Regions from separate parts of the Homo sapiens genome. Here region 2 is linked to region 1. The links come from fine-mapping of genetic effects on gene expression. A gene starts in region 1. The other region holds a variant in brackets. All regions are shown on one strand. Distances are between the middles of the regions.

What was found. PIP is the estimated chance that this variant, and not a neighbour inherited with it, causes the effect. A credible set is the group of variants that fine-mapping cannot tell apart.
Region 2: its variant is the best candidate, but not a certain one, in a credible set for the expression of NSL1 in NK cells (Gilchrist 2021, PIP 0.60).

The regions. Positions count from the first base shown.
Region 1 is chr1:212,789,834-212,795,039 of GRCh38, reverse strand. It overlaps NSL1 (NSL1 component of MIS12 kinetochore complex), which reads left to right and starts at 3,263. Exons shown (of 6, transcript NM_015471.4): 1 at 3,263-3,510. The coding sequence starts at 3,277. It overlaps TATDN3 (TatD DNase domain containing 3), which reads right to left and starts at 3,146. Exons shown (of 10, transcript NM_001042552.3): 1 at 3,053-3,146. The coding sequence starts at 3,118. RefSeq lists enhancers at 85-134, 475-544, 423-923, 3,058-3,337, 3,812-4,590.
Region 2 is chr1:212,714,853-212,720,058 of GRCh38, reverse strand. No RefSeq gene overlaps it. Among named protein-coding and RNA genes, the nearest start is that of BATF3, 18 kb to the right of the region's middle. The variant T/AT (reference allele first, on the strand shown) is at 2,571.

The DNA of each region.
Region 1 (5,206 bases):
GACTGTATATGTCAATGTAGTTGTGGCATCACAAAAAATAACAATGATAGCAACTAATGGAGTGGTGGAAAACAAAGAGCCTACACTGACCCACTTCCTGTTTACTCTTACTATCAGTAAAGTCTGGCTACTGTTCCCAGCACTAAAACAGAAGCCTCTATTGTCAAATATACAGGGTATTTCTCTGTCCTCATCTTACTCTACTCCTCAGCAGCATTCGGAATCCCTCACTTGCTTACTCCTTCCTTCTTGAAATGCTTTCCACCCTTCACTTCTGCAATACCACTCTCTCATTGGTGGCTACTTGTCAGTCTCCTTGACTAGCTCCCCTTCCTCTTTCAGACTTCAAGAACATCTGCTCCTCTCTCTGCACTTGCCTTGAGTGATTTCACTTCCTCTCATGGTTTTATCATCATTATGCTGAGGCCCCCATTTTTTTTCTTTTTTTTGAGATGAAGTTTCACTCTTGTCTCCCAGCTGTAGTGCAATGGTGCGATCTCGGCTCATTGCCACCTCTGCCACCCGGGTTCAAGTGATTCTCCTGCTTCAGCCTCCAGAGTAGCTGGGATTACAGGTGACCGCCACCACACTCAGCTAAATTTTGTATTTTTAGTAGAGATGGTGTTTCACCATGTTGGCCAAGCTGGTCTTTAACTCCTGATCTCAGGTGACCCACCCACCTTGGCCTCCCAAAGTGCTGGGACTACAGGTGTGAGCCATCGAACCCAGCCTGAGTCCCCAATTTTTTTTTTTTTTTTTGAGATGGAGTCTCGCTCTGTCACCCAGGCTGGAGTGCAGTGTCACGATCTCGGCTCACTGCAAGCTCCGCCTCCCGGGTTCACACCATTCTCCTGCCTCAGCCTCCCAAGTAGCTGGGACTACAGGCACATGCTGCCATGCCCAGCTAATTTTTTTGTACTTTTAGTAGCGACAGGGTTTCACCATGTTAGCCAGGATGGTCTCGATCTCCTAACCTTATGATCTGCCCACCTCGGCCTCCCAAAGTGCTGAGATTACAGGCATGAGCCACTGCGCCCGGCCCCCAATTTTTATCTTTAGCTTGTAATTCTCTCCTGAGCCCATGACTCATGTTTAAAAATTATGACATCTTCATTTGGATGGGATTAGGTTTCCCAATATGCCCCAAACATAAATCTTTATTTTCTCCCCACAAACCTATTCCTTCTGCTGACCTCCCCACCTCCACCTCAGACCTTGGTCTTCCCTTATCTCAGTAAACCAGCACCACCATCTTCCCTATAGCACAAGCTAATAATCTGAGTCATCCTTGACTCCTCCCTTTCCCTTGCTATCCACATCCAATTCTTCAGTACTTACTGTGGATTCTCTCTCTAAAATGTATCTTGAATCCATGTATTCATCTCAAACTCACCTGCTATCATCATAGTACCAACAGCCAACATCTCTTGCCTATATACTGCAAAAGCCTCCTAACTAGTCTTGTAGCTTCCACTCTTCTCCTCCACCCATTTGCCATACAGCAGCAAAATGGTGTTAAAATGGATAGCATCATGCCTATCCATTTTTGTGTAATCCCAGGACTTTGGGAGGCCAAGGAGGGTTGATCACTTGAGGCCAGAAGTTCAAGACCAGCCTGGACAACATGGCAAAACTCTGTCTCTATTAAAAATACAAAAAATTAGCCAGGCGTGGTGGGACACACCTGTGATCCCAGCTACTTGGGAGGCTGAGACAGGAGAATTTTTTGAGCCCAGGAGGTGGAGGTTGCAATGACCTGAGATCATGCTATTGCATTTCAGCCTGAGGGACACAGCCAGACTCAATCTAAAAAAATAAAAAAATGAAAATAAATTTTAAAAAAGCCCTTTAATGAATCTGCATTGTGCTTCAAATGCAATCCAAATTCCTTACTGACCCACCTCATCTATCCCCTGCAAACCTCCCCAGTTTTGTTTCATGCCTTTCTCTTTCTAGCTCATCAGGCTCCACTTAGCTTTTTGGCAACTGAAATGTGCCAAATTCTAGCTTGTCTGGGGGCCTGCAACCTATCTGTTTCCCTAACCAGCATACACTCACCCCCTTGCTTGGGTGGCTCCTTGTCTTTTCAGCCTTAAGTGTCAGCTCCTGGGAGGATTTCCCCCTGAAATAAAACCCCCCTTAATCCTCTATTATTAGTCTCTAGTTTCCCACGTAATGGGTAAAACAGTTTGTAACTGATTTTACGTGTGTATTATTATTTTAATTGAGACGGGGTCTCACCACATTGCCCAGGCTGGTCTCAAACTCCTGGGCTCAAGCGATCCACCCACTTCGGCCTCTCATAGTGCTAGGATTACAAGTGTGAGCAACCACACTCGGCCATGTATTTTTGTTTGTTTGTTTGCCTCTCTCCCCCATTTGTGAATTTTTTTTTTTTTTTTTTTTTGAGACAGGGTCTCACTGTTACCCAGGCTGGAGTGCAGTGGCTTGATGTCAGCTCACTGCAACCTCCACCTCCTGGGCTCCAGCGATTCTCCCACCTCAGCCTCCCGAGTAGCTGGGACCACAGGCAAACGCCACAATCACCGGCTTTTTTTTTTTTTTTGTAGGGACGAGGTTTCACCATGTTGCCCAGGCTGGTCACGATCTCCTGGACACAGGAGATGCGCAGCGCCCGCCTCGGCCTCCCAAAGTGCTGGGATTACGGGCGTGAGCCCGCGCCCGACCTCTCCCCGATTTGAACGCGTTTCGAGGACCGCTTCCCACAAAGAGTGGCATCTCAGCCAGGAGGTGAGAGCCCCGAGGGGAAAAACAGGCCAGCCAAGGGGAGTGAGGGAACGATTCCAGGAACTCAGAAGAGCAAACAAAAGCCTTGTGGAGATAGCTTACCGCTACTGAATCAGGAAAAAAAAATCGGTATGTCTGAGGTTAAATAGGGAATAGGGAAATGAGGGGCAAGGTCATATGGCCATAAACAAGGGTCTGGGCGGGGGATATGGGGTTTCGTCCCAAGGGAGGAGAGCAAAGATAACACGAGGGGAAAGGACGGGGGCCTCCCTGCTCCCTCTGGTCCCGTATCGCCCTCACATACGCGGTCAAAGTCCGGGGCGGAGAGGTGGCAGTGACAGTCCACCAAGCCTACGCCAGCCGCTCGCATTGCGCCCCGGCGGCTGCCGCTTTAGACCGGCCAGCAGAGCCGGAGCCGGAACGTTTCAGCTGCAGCGTCCTGAGTTTCCAGCCGGATGCATGCTGGTTACACCAGTGTGAACCCGCTTTTCCGCTCCCAGAGTGCCCCGCCCACAGTTCCGACGAAAAATGGCGGGGTCTCCTGAGTTGGTGGTCCTTGACCCTCCATGGGACAAGGAGCTCGCGGCTGGCACAGAGAGCCAGGCCTTGGTCTCCGCCACTCCCCGAGAAGACTTTCGGGTGCGCTGCACCTCGAAGCGGGCTGTGACCGAAATGCTACAACTGTGCGGCCGCTTCGTGCAAAAGCTCGGGGACGCTCTGCCGGAGGAGATTCGGGAGCCCGCTCTGCGAGATGCGCAGTGGGTACGGGACCAGTTAGCCAGTTCTTTACTCATCATCCTCTTACCCAACACCCAGGATCTTAGGATTCAGAAAGATCCCACGCCAGGCCTTGGCAGAATTAACGGTGCCCCAGGCTACTGTAGAACCAGTTCGAGAAACGCTAGAGGAGAAAGAAATAGATGCTAATGTCAGCTGGGTCTTATTAATTACTTAGACCAGCGCTGTCCAGTGAAAATACAAGGCAAGCTAATCTTTATGTAGTTTTAAACTAAAAGTAAGAAATAGGTGAAGTTAATGGAAATAAGACATTTTGTTTAACCCAATAAATCCAAGGTATTTTAACATGTAATAATATCAAATGAATGAGATATTTTACATTCTTTTGTTCGTACTAAGCTTTTCAAATCTGGTGTGCTGCATTTACGGCACATCTTCGAACTAGTTACATTTAAGCGCTCAGTAACTACAAAGTGGCTAGTGGCTCACCTGTTGGACAATGCAGCCGCAGACAATGAGGAATTCTCCTGGAAAGGGTAATTCTGGAAGTCAGCCATTCACCCAAGCAGCATTTGATCTTTCCTTTTGCATGTTTTATTTATTTATTTATTTTATTTTATTTTTTTTTTTTGAGACAGAGTCTCGCTCTGTCGCCCAGGCTGGAGTGCAGTGGCGCGATCTCGGCTCACTGCAAGCTCCGCCTCCTGGGTTCACGCCATTCTCCTGCCTCAGCCTCCTGAGTAGCTGGGACTCCAGGCGCCTGCCACCACGCCCGGCTAATTTTTTTGTGTTTTTAGTAGAGACAGGGTTTCACCGTGTTAGCCAGCATGGTCTCGATCTCCTGACCTCGTGATCCGCCCGCCTTGGGCTCCCAAAGTGCTGGTATTACAGGCGTGAGCCACCTCGCCCGGCCTATTAACCTTTATTTTTACTGTTTGCACTGTGGTCATTCATAACTCACAAATGTGCGGTATTATGAGCTTTTAAATTTTTTCCGCTAATATAAGTAGATTGGTGCCTGTTATAAGGAAGCACACAATCCCTTTATTTCTTGTGTTCCCAAAAAACTACCACCTTCAGGGCTTTGCAAAAATATTTAAGAAAGGCTTGGGAAATGTGGTATAGAGGCAAATGTATGATCTTAGTAAAGTTTTCAACCAACACAATTTTTTTTAACCTATTTTAGTCTTGTAAAGAAAATGTTTTCACTCTAAAACAGGCAAAAGGGGTCGGGCGCGGTGGCTCACGCCTGTAATCCCAGCACTTTGGGAGGCCGAGGCGGGCGGATCACGAGGTCAGGAGATCGAGACCATCCTGGCTAACATGGTGAAACCCCGTCTCTACTAAAACAATAATAATAATAATACAAAAAATTAGCCGGCCATGGTGGCAGGCACCTGTAGTCCCAGCTACTCGGGAGGCTGAGGCAGGAGAATGGCGTGAACCCGGGAGGCGGAGCTTGCAGTGAGCCCAGATCTCGCCACTGCACTCCAGCCTGGGTGACAGAGCGAGACTCCATCTCAAAAAAAAAAGGTTCAGTGGAAGAATGAAGAAACACTTCCTGGGTTGTGACTCTGTATGTAGTTTTGTATATAGTGACTCTTACGTCATTCCCTCCTTGCAAGCAAGGCAAGAATAGGGATATATCTCAGGACGTTTTTAGTAGTTTTTTGGGAGAAGACTTTTGTTGTATAATCTTAGAATTTGTCTGATTCTAGGA
Region 2 (5,206 bases), 75 kb after region 1:
CGTGGAAAGCAGTTTGGAGATTTCTCAAAAAACTAAAAGTAGAATTACCATTCAACTCAGCAATCCATTACTGGGAATATACCCAAAGGAAAATAAATCATTCTATCAGAAAGATACCTGTATTCATATGTTTATCACAGCACTATTCACAACAGCAAAGACATGGAATCAACCTAAGTGCCCATTAATGGTGGATTGGATAAAGAAAATGTGGTACATATACACCACGGATTACTATACAGCCATGAAAAAGAATGAAATCACATCCTTTACAGCAACATGGATGCAACTGGAGGCCTTTATCCTAAGCAATTTAATGCAGAAACCGAAAATCAAATGAACTATCATGTTCTTACTTATAAGTGGGAGATGAACATTGGGTACACTTGGACACAAATATGGGAACAATAAACCCTGGGGATTCCAAAAGGAGTAGGGGAGGGAGGGGAAATGGGTTGAAAAACTACCTATCATGTACTATGTTCACTACTTGGGGGATGGGATTCTTAGAAACCCAAACCTCAGCATCATATAATTTACTCATGTACCAAACCTGCAAACATATCCCTTGGATCTAAAATAAATAAATACACAAGTAAAATACATTTTGTCGGTTGTTTTGCTACTGGTAGTTCATCTCCCACATCTAACTGACATGTATGTGGAAATCACTTCATAGCATGAGTTTATCAGCATTCTGAATAATTTATTCCTCCAATCTATCATATTAGTAATATTTCTGCTGAACAAGTTGGCAGTTTATCCAATACACCACTTTTGGTGGATATAGTCATTTGAGATGGAATTTTAACAATGTTCACTACGTGAGTTAGAATATTAATAAAAGAGGCCAGGCACAGTGGCTCACGCCTGTAATCCCAGCACTTTGGGAGGCTGAGGCAGGCAGATCACCTGAGGTTATCAGAAGTTCGACACCAGCCTGGTCAACATGGCGAAACCCCGTCTCTACTAAAAATACAAAAACTAGCAGGGCGTGGTGGTACACACCTGTAATCCCAGCTACTCAGGAGGCTGAGGCAGGAGAATCACTTGAACCTGGAAGGCGGAGGTTGCAGTGAGCTGAGATCGCACCACTGCACTCCAGCCTGGGCAACAGAGTGAGATTCCATCTAAAAAAAAAGACTATTAATAAAGGAAAGGCACTTCACCTACAAGTCAATAAAATAGATGTAAAGAAACAATAAGACACTTCTGCTCTGAATCACTGAGACCACCCAGTGGTTTCCCAGCTGTGTGCATTATGATACCAAACCATGCAGTCATTATATGACAGACGTTCTATAATCTGTTGTTAAGAGGAAGAAGGCAATCACTTCCAGTTGGAATGATCAAGAAAGTCTCCATAGAGGGAGCATTTGAGCCACATTTAAAGCGTAAATAGGATTTTGGTTGACAGCACTGTATTCAAAGAAAATGACATGGCCAAAATCGTGGAGGGAGGAACAAGCTAAGCTGGGAAATAGGGAGGCATTGACACAGCTGGATTAGGTAAATTTAAAGTGTGCCATATACGACTTAAAAGTCAGCCTAAAGTTTTGGATTATATTTGTCACAATATGGGGAATAATTGAAGGGTTTTGACCTAAGTGTGTGTCTAATTGTTTGTGGCACTGTCCCAGGTAGAGATACACAAGGAGAATTACCCATCTCTATTCAGATCCATTGGCAGAGGTCACTACATATGTAAAAACAAGACCAAAACCAAAACAAAAACAGGAAAAAACAAGGAAAAATAAAGCAATAAATTTGAATAATTATTAGGTTGGTATAAAGTAATTGTGGCTTTTGCCATTACTTTTATGGCAAAAAACCGCAATTACTTTTGCACCAACCTCATAAGCTATATCATTGGTAAAGTATCAATGATATATTTTTAAAAGTACAATTAGGGATAAAAACATAATTTGATAACCAATCTCACTAGAACTCAAGGAAATGCAAATTAAGATCACAATAAGATAACATTTTACACCTCCTAGATGGGCAAAAATTAAGAAATCTGACAATGGTTGATAGAACCACTAGACAAAAAAATCAGCAAGTCTATAGATCTCAGCAACATCATCAACAAACAGGATCAAATCTATATTTATAGAACACTCCACCCAATGACAGAAGAATATACATTCATTACAAGTACCCATGAAATGTATACCAAAATAGACTATATCCTGGGCCATAAGACAAACCTCAATAAATTAAAAGAATTAGAATCATACTGAGTGTATTCTCTGACCACAGTGGAATGAAACTAGAAATCAATAACAGAAAGGTAAGAGGACAACAAGATAACACTCTTCTAAATAATCCATGGGTCAAATAGGAAGTTTCAAAAGAAACTTTTTATAAAATGCCTTGAACTAAATGGAAATGAAAGCACAATATATCAAAATTTGTGCTACAGCAGTGCCAAGAGGGAAATTTATAGCACGAAATGTTTCAAAACTTTCACCACAAGAACCTAAAAAAGAAGAGCAAAATAAGCCCAAAGCAAGCAGAAATAAGAAAATAATATTAAGAGCAGAAATCAATGACGCTGGTAAAAAAAA[T/AT]AATAATAATAAAGCAAACCACTGAAACAAAAAGCTGATTCTTTGAAAAGATCAATGAAATTGATACACCTCTAGCAAGACCAACAAGGAAAAAAAGAGAGAAGACAAAGGACACTAATATCAAAAATGAAACAGGGACTATCACTAGAGAACTTGCAGATAACAAAAGGATAATAAAAGAATACTAAGGACAATGAAACACACATAGATTTGACACCTTAGATCAAATGGACCAATTCCTTGAAAAACACAAACCATCACAACTCACCCAATATGAAATAATTTTAATAGTCCTATTACAGCTAAGGGATTTGAGCAATATAAAGAATTCAGCAGTGTATATATATAAATTCGCTAGGTGCAGTGGCTCACACCTGTAATCCCAGCACTTTGGGAGGCCGAGGTGGGTGGATCACCTGAGGTTGGGAGCTCGAGACCAGCCTGACCAACACAGAGAAATCCCATCTCTACCAAAAAAAAAAAAAAAATACAAAATTAGCCAGGCTTGGTGGCGCATGCCTGTAATCCCAGCTACTCGGGAGGCTGAGGCAGGAGAATCGCTTGAACTTGGGAGGTGGAGGTTGCAGTGAGCCGAGATCGCGCCATTGTACTCCAGCCTGGGCAACAAGAGCGAAACTCTGTCTCAAAACAAAAAAGAAAAAAAATTTATAACTAAGCAGAGTGTATTCCAGGAATGGAAGTCTGGTTAAATTTTTGAAAATCAATGTAATCTACCATATTAATAGTCTAGAGAGGAAAAATCACATGATCATATCAATTGATACAGAAAAAGCATTTGAAAACAAAATCAACAATGATTCATGATAAAAATTCCCAGAAAAAGTAGGAATGGAGGGGAACTTCCTCAATTTGATAAAGGACAGCTACAAAAACCCCACAGCTAGTATTATTATACTTAATGATAACAGATGGAATGCTTTCTCCTCTAAGATCTGGAACGAGGCAAAAATGTCCACTCTCAGAAGTTTATTCAACATAGTGCTGGAAATTCTAGTTGGTGAAATAAGGAAAGAAAATAAAAGAAAAACTGTATAGATCAGAAAGGAAGAAATGAAACTGTCCTATTTGCAGATGACATGATTGTCTACACAGAAAATCCCAAGGAATGCACCAAAAACTCCTAGAACTTACAAATGAGTTTAGCAAGGTCACAGGATATAAGATACACCTACAAAAATCAGTTGTATCTCTCTATACTAGCAATGAACATGTGGACACATAAATAAAAATACAATACCATTTGCAATCACTCAACAAAAAGTGGTTGAGTGTAAACCTAACAAAACATGTATAGGACTTATTTGCTGAAAGCTACAAAACATTGATGAAGGATGTCAAACATATAAATAAAGAAGAGACACAACATGTCCATGGATGGAAGACTCAATCTGGCCAATTCGCTCCAGATTTATACACATATTTAATGTAATTTCTATCAAAATCCCAGTAAGTAAGTAAAATCCCAAAATACATATACACAAGATTATTTTAAAATGTATATGGAAAGGCAAAGGAATTAGAATAGCTAAACCAATCTTGAAAAAGAAGAAAGTAGAGAGACTCAGTCTATCCAATTTCAAGACTTATTATATAGCTATAGTGAAGACTGTGGGATATTGGCAGAGAGGTAGACACACAGATCAAGACCACACAGAATAGAGAACCCAGAAGTAGACTCACACAAATATGGCCAGCTGAGTTCTGTCAATGGTGCAAAAGCAATTCAAGGAGGAAAGATAAGTCTTTTCAACAAATGGTACTGGAACAATTGAGCATCCATGGGTAAAAGAAACAAACAACCAGCCAGGTTTGGTGGCTCATGCCTGTAATCCCAGCACCTTGGGAGACTGAGGCAGTAGATCCCTTGAGGCTAGGAGTTCAAGACCAGCCTGGCCAAAATGGCAAAACCCCGTCTCTACTAAAAAAACAAAAATTAGCCATGTGTGGTGGTGCATGCCTGTAATCCCAGCTATGTGGGAGGCTGAGGCATGAGAATTGCTTGAACCCGAGAGGCGGAGGTTGCAGTTTGAGCCTAAATCGGACCACTGCACTCCAGCCTGGGCAACAGAGTGAGACCCTGTCTCAAAAAAAAAAAAAAAAAAAAAGTAAGGAACATCCACCTAAGTCTCACGCTTTATGGAAAAATTAACATGGGTCACACACTTAAATATCAAATATATAACTGAAGCATTTAGAAAAACTAGGAGAAAATCTTCAGGATCTAGGGCTAAGCAAAGAGTTCTTAAACTTGACACCAAAAGCATCATTCATTTTTAAAAATGGATAAATTGGATTCGTTAAAATTAAAGATTTTGCCTTTTGAAAGATGTTGTTAAAAGGATGAAAAGACAAGCTATAAAGTGGGAGAAAATATTTGCAAACCGTGTATCTGACAAAAGATTAGTATCTTGAATATATAAATAACTCTTGGCTAGGCATGGTGGCTCATGCCTGTAATCCCAACACTTTGGGAGGCCAAGGCAGGAGGATTATTTGAACCCAGGAGTTCAAGACTGGGCAACATAAAGAGACTGTATCTCTACAAAAAGTAAAAAACAAAACAAAACAAAACAAAATTAGCCAGGAGTGGTGGCACACAGCTATAGTCCTTGCTA